Regions from separate parts of the Homo sapiens genome. Here all the other regions are linked to region 4. Evidence: fine-mapped expression QTL. A gene starts in region 4. Each other region holds a variant in brackets. All regions are shown on one strand. Distances are from middle to middle.

Region 1 (2,695 bases), 110 kb before region 4:
CTTTACAAAAATTTTTCAAGCAGCCAACTGTGTCTGTTCAGCCTGACATCTGGTGCTACAATTCTCCAGATTTAAAGGTACTCTGGCCAGCTTTGTTCCTTTTAAGGAAAAGAGTCTGCTGCGTGCTTCCTGTAACCTCTAGTTTCTTATCTGAATTCAGATCCACACTCTTGGGCAGATGAGGCTTGAGGCTGACCCTCATGGAGATCCCCCGGGCTTCCAAATTTAGAGTCTAGGATCCAAATCTCAGCTCTACCACTTGCCATTTTTGTGATCTCAGGCAAGTTCTTTGCTTCTCTGAGCCTCAGTTTTCCAATTGGTAAAAGTGGGGATAATAACTCCTTCACTCAGTTGTACTGATAATTTAATGAAAAATATTTCTGAAAATACTCCACACAATGCTTTACACATAGTAAAAGCCAAATAAATTATGAATTTCCCTTCCTTTTTTTCTGGAAGGTAGAGAGGAGAAGGGAAGGAATAGATTGATGGCAGGGGATAAGGGCCCTAAAAATGACAGGAGTCCTGAAAACCAAAAGTGGTGGCAGCCTAGTTTTTACATGCCACTACTTTATAGTCTGATAAAGCACAGGTCATGATCACTAAAAGCCACACGGCACCTAAGATAGCTGCTGCAAGAAATTCCTTGATCAGAGCACAGAAGGACATTCAAACTCTGCGTGTTTGAAATGCACAAAGCAGATAGGGAAAGAGGCACCATTGGATGGCAAGAAGAAAAAATTTTGCCTACACCAAGCAAAAAAACCCCAAAAATCATAAAACAAGGAGAGGTTCAACACATGCTATGTCAGAGAGTCCTGGGAGTGTACAGAGGTGTCTGACTTTAACCCCCTCCAAATATCAACCCCAGAACTGAAAAAGGAGAAAGAACGGAAGGTCTTCATAATCAGTTGGAAAATCTTACACAATATTTATAGGAACTTTAAACACGTATCCCTTCTGAGGTCCCTAAAGAAAGCCAAATGACACTAGCTATTCAGGGACTCAAAACCCCAAATAATATTAGAGATGAGGGTCTGTGCTTTCTAGCTACTCTCAGAAGGGTTCTCTTAGTGAGTATTAAAGCTGTTAAAGTTAGCTCTTGATGTACTCTGAACAGGCTACTCAGCAGTCAGGAATTGAGGTATGGCAGGGAGGGAGTAGAATTCCATAACAGGATGAGCTTGTTAGCCAAATCTGACTGAAAATGTCACTTATCGCTGCCCAATGTATAAGGTGGAAAAAGTGGCTAAAAATTACAGCTCTTCACAATCAGTGTCTCCCACTCCCATGAAAGAACATTAAAAAAAAATGGAATAGACTACCCAATGTGTTGTTAAAGGCAAGTGACTTGAGACTTGCCCCTCAGAGAATTGTTGGAATAGGGCTTCACTTTTCTCTCTGTGTCAAAGAAACTTTGAGTATCTTTTTAAATGTTTTGAAATAAAAATGGCAAGAACATAGGTTATCACCCACAAATTA[C/T]ATTTAATGGTGTTTTGAAAGAGTTAATTCAAAAATCCTGTGTATGAAGAGTAAATCAAGATGCCAGCCTGCAGGAAAGTTACCTCTACCAAATCTTATGAAATGACAGAAAAGATTAAAGGGGGTGAGGTTAATTGGTAACAGGACAGGGGACAAGAAAAATGCCGTAAGTGTATGAGAAATTTTCAGGAGATGGGATCAGACTTTAGAAAAACATACTAGAGCAACTGTGCCGTACATTTGGCTCTAGATTGCTGAGGAGGTAGGATAAATTTCAGGGATGCTACAAGCTCAGAGAGAACAGGTTCTATGAATAGGACATCCTAGGGTAATGGCCAGAGTGATTAACTGAAACACTGCATTTGGAGCAGCTGGACTGCTACTCACATTCCCTTCTTTTGCTTGTAATTGTCCACAGATTAAGTAGTGAGCCTGTGGATTCTGAGAGCCAACAGACAGAAGAGTAGCAGTGGACCCCAGGAGGCACAGGGAGGCTCCTCACTCTGAAAAGAAACACTCTCCCCAGCAATATGCCCTTCCCTTCACCTATAATCACAAGTTGACCCACATCAAGCAGAAGGAGAGAGCTAACAGGGATTCTTATTTATAAAGTAAAAGAATAATCCAATACAAGAATAATACAAGTTTGCAGAGACACCAAACTCAGAAAAAATAATACCTAACGAAAGAGAGTTTATAAATTTAAAAAAGATGAATACAAATTCTTTTTATAAATTTTATAATTTTAAGAAAATATAATTATTGTATATAAAATATATACTTATAAATATCACAAATATAACAATTATCCTCAAAGAGGTTCAAGATATTACATCCATGAAAATGAAACAATGATCCCAGAAATTTAAAAACATGATTTTTGAAATAAACTCAGGACATATGTATCACCAATAGAATCTCTTTGAAAGGATGACTATAGGATAAATTTTAACAAAATAAATGATGAATCCAAGAAAGATGAAGGTGAAGCATTCAAGAATCAGTGGAGAGAAAAGAGATGATTTGTCTAAATATGACATATATTTAAAATTAATAGCATAAAATTAAAATCTAGATTAGACGTTGGCAAATGTTTTCTGTAAAAGACCAGATAGTAAATATTTTCAGTTTTGTGTTCCATATAGACTCTGTTGCAACCACTCAGCTCTGCTGTTGTAGTGTGAAAACAGTCATAGATAATATGTAAATGAAT
Region 2 (2,695 bases), 99 kb before region 4:
TTGGAAAAGAATATTCTCTTGTGTGGGTGGCCTATTATATGAATATCAGTTGGGTCAAGGTGGTTGATGGTATTGTTCAGGCTTTTTAATCCTTTACTGATTTTCATTCCTACTGCTTTATTGATTACAGTGAGAAAAGTGTTGATTCAAAAGACCTTTTGATATGATACCACAGTTCTTGGGTGCTCTGAGCCACCAACCATAATTTTGGACTTATCTAATACCTTTTATTCTGTCAGATTTTACTTCCTATATTCTGCAAATCTTTTGTTAGATGTGTGATTATTATGCATTTTTTTGTATATTCTTGGTGAATTGGTTGCTTGTCATTATGTAATTTCTCTCTTTTTTTTTTGAGACAGAGTCTCACTCTGTCTCCCAGGCTGGAGTGCAGTGGTGCAGTCTTGGCTTACTGCAACCTCCACTGCCTGGGTTTAAGCAATTCTCCTGCCTCAGCCTCCCAAGTAGCTGGGACTACAGGTGTGCACCACCATGCCTGGCTAATTTTGTATTTTTAGTAGAGATGGGGTTTCTTTTCTTTTTTTTTTTTTAGTACTTTAAGTTCTAGGGTACATGTGCACTATGTGCAGGTTTCTTACATATGTATACATGTGCCGTGTTGGTTTGCTACACTCACTAACTCGTTGTTTACTTTAGGTATTTTTCCTAATGCTATCCGTCCCCCATCCCCCCCACCCAATGACAGGCCCCGGTGTGTGATATTCCCTGCCCTGTGTCCAAGTGTTCTCATTGTTCAATTCCCACCTATGAGTGAGAACACGCAGTGTTTGGTTTTCTGTCCTTGTGATACTTTGCTCAGAATGATGGTTTCCAGCTTCATCCATGTCGCTACAAAGGACATGAAGTCATCCTTTTTTATGGTTGCATAGTATTCCATGGTGTATGTGTGCCATATTTTCTTAATCCTGCCTATCATTGATGGACATTTGGGTTGGTTCCAAGTCTTTGCTATTGTGAATAGTGCTGCAATAAACATACGTGTGCATATGTCTTTATAGCAGCATGATTTATAATCCTTTGGGTATATACCCAGTAATGGATGGCTGGGTCAGATGGTATTTCTAGTTCTAGATCCTTGAGGAATTGCCACACAGTC[G/T]TCCATAATGGTTGAACTAGTTTACAGTCCCACCAACAGTGTAAAAGTGTCCCTATTTCTCCACATCCTCTCCAGCACCTGTTGTTTCCTGACTTTTTAATGATTGCCATTCTAACTGGTGTGAGATGGTATCTCATTGTGGTTTTGATTTGCATTTCTCTGATGGCCAGTGATGATGAGGATTTTTTCATGTGTCTGTTCACTGTATAAATGTCTTCTTTTGAAAAGTGTCTGTTCATGTCCTTTGCCCAGTTTTTGATGGGGTTGTTTGATTTTCTTCCTGTAAATTTGTTTAAGTTCTTTGTGGATTCTGGATATTAGCCCTTTGTCAGATGAATAGATTGCAAAAATTTTCTCCCATTCTGTAGGTTGCCTGTTCACTCTGATGGTAGTTTCTTTTGCTGTGCAGAAGCTCTTTAGTTTAATTAGATCCCATTTGTCTATTTTGGATTTTCTTGCCATTGCTTTTGGTGTTTTAGTCATGAAGTCCTTGCCCATGCCTATGTCCTGAATGGTATTGCCTAGGTTTTCTTCTAGGGATTGTATAGTTTTAAGTCTAACATTTAAGTCTTTAATCCATCTTGAATTAATTTTCGTATAACGTGTAAGGAAGGGATCCAGTTTCAGCTTTCTGCATATGGCTAGCCAGTTTTCCTAATACCATTTATTAAATAGGGAATCCTTTCCCCATTTCTTGTTTTTGTCAGGTTTGTCAAAGTTCAGATGGTTGTAGATGTGTGGTGTTATTTCTGAGGGCTCTGTTCTGTTTCATTGATCTCTATCTCTGTTTTGGTACCAGTACCATGCTGTTTTGTTTACTGTAGGGTTGTAGTATAGTTTGAAGTCAGGTAGCGTGATGCCTCCAGCTTTGTTCTTTTTGCTTAGGATTGTCTTGGCAATGTGGGCTCTTTTTTGGTTCCATATGAACTTTAAAGTAGTTTTTTCCAATTCTATGAAGAAAGTCATTGGTAGCTTGATGGGGATGGCATTGAATCTATAAATTACCTTAAACAGTATGGCCATTTTCACGATATTGATTCTTCCTGTCTGTGAGCATGAAATGTTCTTCCATTTGTTTCCTCTTTTATTTCATTGAGCAGTGGTTTGTAGTTCTCCTTGAAGAGGTCCTTCACATCCCTTGTAAGTTGGATTCGTAGGTATTTTATTCTCTTTGTAGCAATTGTGAATGGGAGTTCACTCATGATTTGGCTCTCTGTTTGTCTGTTATTGGTGTATAGGAATGCTTGTGATTTTTGCACAATGATTTTGTATCCTGAGACTTTGCTGAAATTGCTTATCAGCTTAAGGAGATTTTGGGCTGAGATGATGGGATTTTCTAAATATACAATCATGTCATCTGCAAACAGGGACAATTTGACTTCCTCTTTTCCTAATTGAATACCCTTTATTTCTTTCTCTTGCCTGGTTGCCCTGGCCAAAACTTCCAACACTATGTTGAGTAAGAGTGGTAAGAGAGGGAATCCCTATCTTGTGCCAGTTTTCAAAGGGAATGCTTCCAGTTTTTGCCCATTCAGTATGATATTGGCTGTGGGTTTGTCGTAAATAGCTCTTATTATT
Region 3 (2,695 bases), 58 kb after region 4:
CCTTTTAGCAGTATACTTCCATTACCCCCCACCCTTTCTGCTATTGTCATATGTTTTATCTATAAACTCTACATTGTTAATTTAAAAATTTTTAATTGTGGTAAGCTACACATAAGATTTACCTTCTTAAACATTTTAAGCATATAGTTCAGTAGTGTAACATAGATTCACACTGTTATACAACCTATCCATGAACTCTTTTCATCTTGCAAAAACTGAAACTCTCTACCAATTAAGCCACTCCCCATTTCCACCTCCCTCTAGACCCTGGCAACCACCATTGTACTTTCTGTCTCTATAAATTTGACTGCTCTAGGAAGTAAACGTCAGTAGAATTATACCATATTTGTTTTTCTTTAACTGGCTTATTTCACTTAACATAATGTTCTCAAGGTTGATCAAAGTTGTAGCATGTGTCAGAATTTCATTCCTTTTTAAGGCTTAATAATCATTGTATTTACATACCACATTTTGTTTATTCATCCATCAGTGGACAGTTGAGCTGCTTCCCAACCTTTTGGCTAGTATGAGTTGCACTGCTTTGAACAAGGGTATACAGATATCAATGTCTCCTAGAGAAAAGTGAAATGCTAGTTCCTTGATGTGTAAAGTCAGGTTGATTTGAAATCTTCTTTCCTAATGTAAGCATTTACAACTACAAATTTCCCTCTTAGCAGTGCTTATACTCTGTCCTATAAGTTTTGGTGTATTGTAGCTTTGTTGTCATTTGCCTCATGATATTTTCCAATTTGCTTTGTGATTTCTTCTTTGACCCCTTGGTAGTTTGAGTGTTTTGTTCAATCCCCACATATTTGTGGATTTTCCAGTTTTCCGTCCGCTGTTGATTTCTAGTTTGAATCAACTGTGATTGGAAAATATACTTTGTATGACTTATAAAATGTGGGGAATGTTCCATGTGCACTTGAGAAAACTGTATTCTCTTATTTTTTTCGTTAACATCTTATTGAGATACAATTCATATACCATGCAACCCACTTAAAATATACAAATAAGTTTGTTTTTAGTAGTCACAAAGTTGTGCAACCATCACCACAATCAATTTTGCAATTTTATCACCCCAAAAAGAACGTCTGTACCCATTCACAGCCACTCTATATTCCCCCAACACCCTGCACCACATTCTAGCCCTAGGCAACCACTAATCTACTTCCTGTCTCTCCATATTTGTCTGTTCTGGTATATGATTATATTTTTTCTTTATTATTTCAATCGTTTTGGGGGAACAGGTGGTGTTGGTTACACAGATAAGTGCTTTAGTGGTGATTTCTGAGATTTTGGTGCACCCATCACCCGAGCAGTCTATACTGAACCCAATGTGTAGTCTTTTATCCCTCTCACCCTTCCCCCACAA[G/A]TCCCTAGAGTCCATTATATCCTTCTTATGCCTTTGTGTTAGAGGACTACTCTTTATGTCTCTTAAATCTAATTGGTCTATAATGTTGTTCAAGTCCCTTATTGCTTTATTGGTCTTCCATCCGGTGATTCTATTGATTATTGGAAGTGGGGTATTGAAGTCTACTTTTACTATAGAGTAGTCTTTTCTCCAAGTCTGTCAATGCTTGCTTCATATATTTAGGCACTTTAATGTTTGGTACATATATAATTGTATCTATCTTCTTGCTGAACTGGCCCTTTTGTTTGGCCCATATGTTCTTATATAATGTCCTTCTTGGTATGTTTTAACAGTTTTGACTTAAAGTCTATTTTGTCAGATATTACTGTAGTCACTCCTGTGTTCTTTTGGTTACAAAATTTCAGATTATCTTTTTCCATCTTTTTACCTTAAACCTATGCATATCTCTGGATCTAAAGTTAGTTGCATGTAGACAGCATATAGTTGGATTTTGGTTTTTAAAAATCCATTCTTCCATTCAATTTATTTTGGTTAGGGAGTTTTGTCCATTTACATTTAAAGTTTTTGGGAGGTCTGTTGCTGTTTGTTCACAATTTTATGTATGTCTTGAGGACTTTTACCCTCTCATTTCCTTCCTTATTGCCTTATTGTTTAGTTGATTTTGTGTAATGATGCAACTTCAATCGTATATAAAGACTCTACTCCTTTTCAGCCCCTGCCCTACCTTGTGTTACTGGTGTCACAAATTACATCTTTAGGTTATGTACCCATTAACAAAGATTTATAGTATTTTTTATGCTTTTGTCTTTTAAATTCGAAAAGAATGAAAAGTGAAAGAATGAAAAGTGAGTTGTCAACCAAAATTAAAATAATACAGGCCTTTATATTTGTCCAAATATTTACATTTACTGGGGAATTTCATATTTGCATATAGCTTTGAATTATTGTCTAGTATCCTTTTGTTTCAACTTGAAGGATTTTCTTTAGGATTTTGTAGGGAAAATACAGTGGTAATGAAGTTCCTCAGCTCTTATCTAGGAATGTCTTAATTTCTTTTTCATTTTTGAAGGACACTTTGCTGGATGTAGTATTCTTCTAGGTTTTTTTCTTTCAGCCCTTTAAATATATCATCCTACTGACTTCTGGCCTGTAAAGTTTCTGCTGAAAAATCTGCTGATAATCTTACAGATGCTCCCTTGCATGTGATGAGCCATTTTGTCTTGTTGCTGTCAAGATTTTCTCTTTGTCTGACACTCGACTGATTAAAATGTGTCTTGCTGTGGGTCTCTGGGTTTATCCTACTTGGAGTTCATGGAGCTTTTT
Region 4 (2,695 bases):
TTTTTTAGGAGTGGCGGGGTTTCTCCATATTGGTCAGGCTGGTCTTGAACTCCCAACCTCAGGTGATCCACCCGCCTTGGCCTCCCAAAGTGCTTGGATTACAGGCATGAGCCTCTGTGCCCAGCCTCTTTTTTCTTTTCTTTTTTTTTTTTTTTGCTACTGCTTTTGGTGTCATATCTAAGAATCCATCAAGGATTCTCAGAATTGTAATTCAAGGTCATAAAGATTTACACCAACAGTTTCTTTGAAGAGCTTTAGAGTTTTAGCTCCTAAGTTTAGGTCTTTGATACATTTTAATTTTTGTATATGGTGTGAAGTTAAGGGTCTAATTGCATTTGGATATCCAGTTGTCTCCCCATCTGTTGAAGACAATTATTTTCCCATTGAATGGTCTTGCACCCTTTCTAAAGATCAGATGACCATACATCATATCACGGTTTATTTTTGGATGTCAATTTTATTCCAAAACAATTGAAATTGTTAACCGCTTACGTGTTTCAGGCATGATCCTAAGCACGAATTCATTTGCTTCTCATAATAACTGTGAAGTGGGCACTATTCTCACTTCCATTTGACAAATGAAGTGGCCGATATACAGAGTGATTTGCCCAAGGCCATATAACTGGTAAGTGGCAGTGCCAGGATAATAATTTAGGTTGACTAACTTGAGAGCCTGAGTCTTAGCCATGCATGCTGTAAACAAAAATTAGAAATCAAAACTTCTGAATTCCACTGAAGAGCTCACTTTAAGCAAACGGGGTGAAGGTCGGATTAGCCACTAACGGTTTGAAAAGCACAACAGGGAGGGATTGCCTCACCAGCTTGCTTTCTATAGAGTAGCGGCAAAGGACCTGCCTGTTTTGGCTGAAACTCTTTCAACCCCCACAAGTTGAGAATTTGCACTAACTAAGTCGAATTTGCAGTTAGGAAGCCTTCCTGGGTTCCTGGGACAGCGCCGAGTGCTGCGAGCAAAGGCCGAGCCCGCTGCCAGAGGCTCGCGCCGCTCGCAGCACAGAACCTGAGAGTGGGAAGGCGTAGGCGCCCGGGCGGGAGGCAACCGGGATGTGGAAACTCTCGCGGGAAGATGCGTCGTTGCCTCGGTAACCGCGTCGCAGTCGCCGAAGATGGCGGGGCGAAGTCTGTGTCTCACGGTCAGTTCAACTCCAGGCTCCTGGGGAGCGTCTGGGTTCCGGCGACTAGGACGCCTAACTTCCTTTAACTTCGGGTCTGAAAGTCTGTGGCTCTTTTACAGAGAAGCAGCGTTCCAGGGACTCCGTTCCCGCCACCCGTTCAGCAACCCTCTACACCTGGACCCGACCTCCTCGCCTTGGAGGAAGAATATAAGTAAGAAATTCGGCGGTTGAACTTTTCCTTCTTTCTTTCATCTGAATGAGGCTGCTTACAAGTACTTTTTTCTGGAGACTGGCTGGATCTTCGGGACCACTCACTCTGCAGCATTCCCTTCTCGTCATCTCGTTCACCTGCCGTTTATCCTTTCTTTGTCTTTGATCTGAGTAGTTCGCCTGCGTATTAGAAGATATTTGAAGTGGGCGAAAATTTAGCCCAAGTAAGCATGTTGTTTAATTTAAAACGTAGCCCAAGTAAACAGCAAGATACTGTTGGAAGTTATTTGGGTAGCAGGAATTGCCACGAATAGTTAGTTCACTTGATAGTTTAGGTTATTTCGCTTAATATCAAGTTCATAGAGTTTACCTTGTGTAAATTTCCTTTAGGTTGGTTTCTAAATTGAAAGGATGCTTCCCACTGCAATCAGAATTACCATTCTCGTTCAAATATTCCTTTTCTTATCTGTTCTCAGTGTAATTACAACTATCCTGACAACGGTGCTTTCATTCTTGGCCCATTCTACTCCTCATCCCCAAGTTTTCACACAGCAGCCAGTGTAATCTTTTAATTTGATCTACCATGCCTTTGCTTAAAATTCTACAGTAGTTTCCTGTTGCATTTCAAAAGCTCTGATCGATGTGGCTCCTCCTGCCTCCTCTATTTGATCTTATTCCCTCTTCCCCTTTTCCCCCTAAAACTCTCCAGCTTCACTGGCCTTTTAGTTCCAAAAACTCTTCCAGGTTTTCTTTCTATCTCAGGAAAGAGACAGTCACACACGCCTTCAACCTGTAATGTGAGTGGCCTTCCTTGACCATGCTAAGTAGGCTCCCTTGTTGGTCTTTTTCATTGTCTCAGTGATTTTTCTTTCTAATTAGCATAATTTGTTACAATAAATTCATTTGTGAATTTCCTTTTTGTCTGTCTCCACTGGACTGTAAGTTCCAAGGGCAGAGGCGATGTCTGTTTTATTTGCCATCATACATACCCTTATAAAAAAGTGCCTTTTAACAACTCCCTTCCGTTTTAATATAAAATAACTAGATTAAAATTTGGAAATAGTTGGCAGTTTGTATCAGAGGGTTAAACTAGAGTTATCGTATGATCTACATATGATCTATAAGCATATTTGAAATTAAAACTGAAAGGTACTGTGTTTAGGTGAACTATACACAGACCAATTTACCACAGCAAGTAGGAAGATAATCATATCTTCTTCTCTCTGATGAAATGGGCCGATTATCCCAGTTCAAAAGTGTACTTAAGCAAATTAATCTGTTTTCTATATATAGTTCTTTATCAGCTATGCCTCAATCAAAACGGTTATTTTCATTATCATTAACCATATAGT

Alleles and levels. Positions count from the first base shown, and alleles are read on the strand shown. Sizes are in standard deviations (SD) of each study's normalised expression.
With allele C in place of T in region 1, the expression in testis of the gene that starts at base 1,100 in region 4 is lower (small effect, 0.20 SD a copy in GTEx).
In carriers of allele G in region 2, the expression in unexposed skin of the gene that starts at base 1,100 in region 4 tends to be lower than with T alone (small effect, 0.33 SD a copy in GTEx).
For the expression in minor salivary gland of the gene that starts at base 1,100 in region 4, G is the low allele of the variant in region 3 and A is the other (small effect, 0.34 SD a copy in GTEx).

What was found. PIP is the estimated chance that this variant, and not a neighbour inherited with it, causes the effect.
Region 1: its variant is fine-mapped to the expression of TEX9 in testis (GTEx, PIP 0.99).
Region 2: its variant is fine-mapped to the expression of TEX9 in unexposed skin (GTEx, PIP 0.96).
Region 3: its variant is fine-mapped to the expression of TEX9 in minor salivary gland (GTEx, PIP 0.91).

What each region holds. Positions count from the first base shown.
Region 1 is chr15:56,252,532-56,255,226 of GRCh38, forward strand. It overlaps a transcript of TEX9 not described here. Among named protein-coding and RNA genes, the nearest start is that of RFX7, 10 kb to the left of the region's middle. The variant C/T (reference allele first, on the strand shown) is at 1,483.
Region 2 is chr15:56,265,790-56,268,484 of GRCh38, forward strand. It overlaps a transcript of TEX9 not described here. Among named protein-coding and RNA genes, the nearest start is that of RFX7, 23 kb to the left of the region's middle. The variant G/T (reference allele first, on the strand shown) is at 1,118.
Region 3 is chr15:56,422,560-56,425,254 of GRCh38, forward strand. All of the region lies in intron 10 of TEX9 (testis expressed 9), which reads left to right. Among named protein-coding and RNA genes, the nearest start is that of MNS1, 41 kb to the right of the region's middle. The variant G/A (reference allele first, on the strand shown) is at 1,373.
Region 4 is chr15:56,364,327-56,367,021 of GRCh38, forward strand. It overlaps TEX9 (testis expressed 9), which reads left to right and starts at 1,100. Exons shown (of 12, transcript NM_001395496.1): 1 at 1,100-1,151; 2 at 1,253-1,344. The coding sequence starts at 1,125. RefSeq lists enhancers at 564-743, 754-803, 1,344-1,393.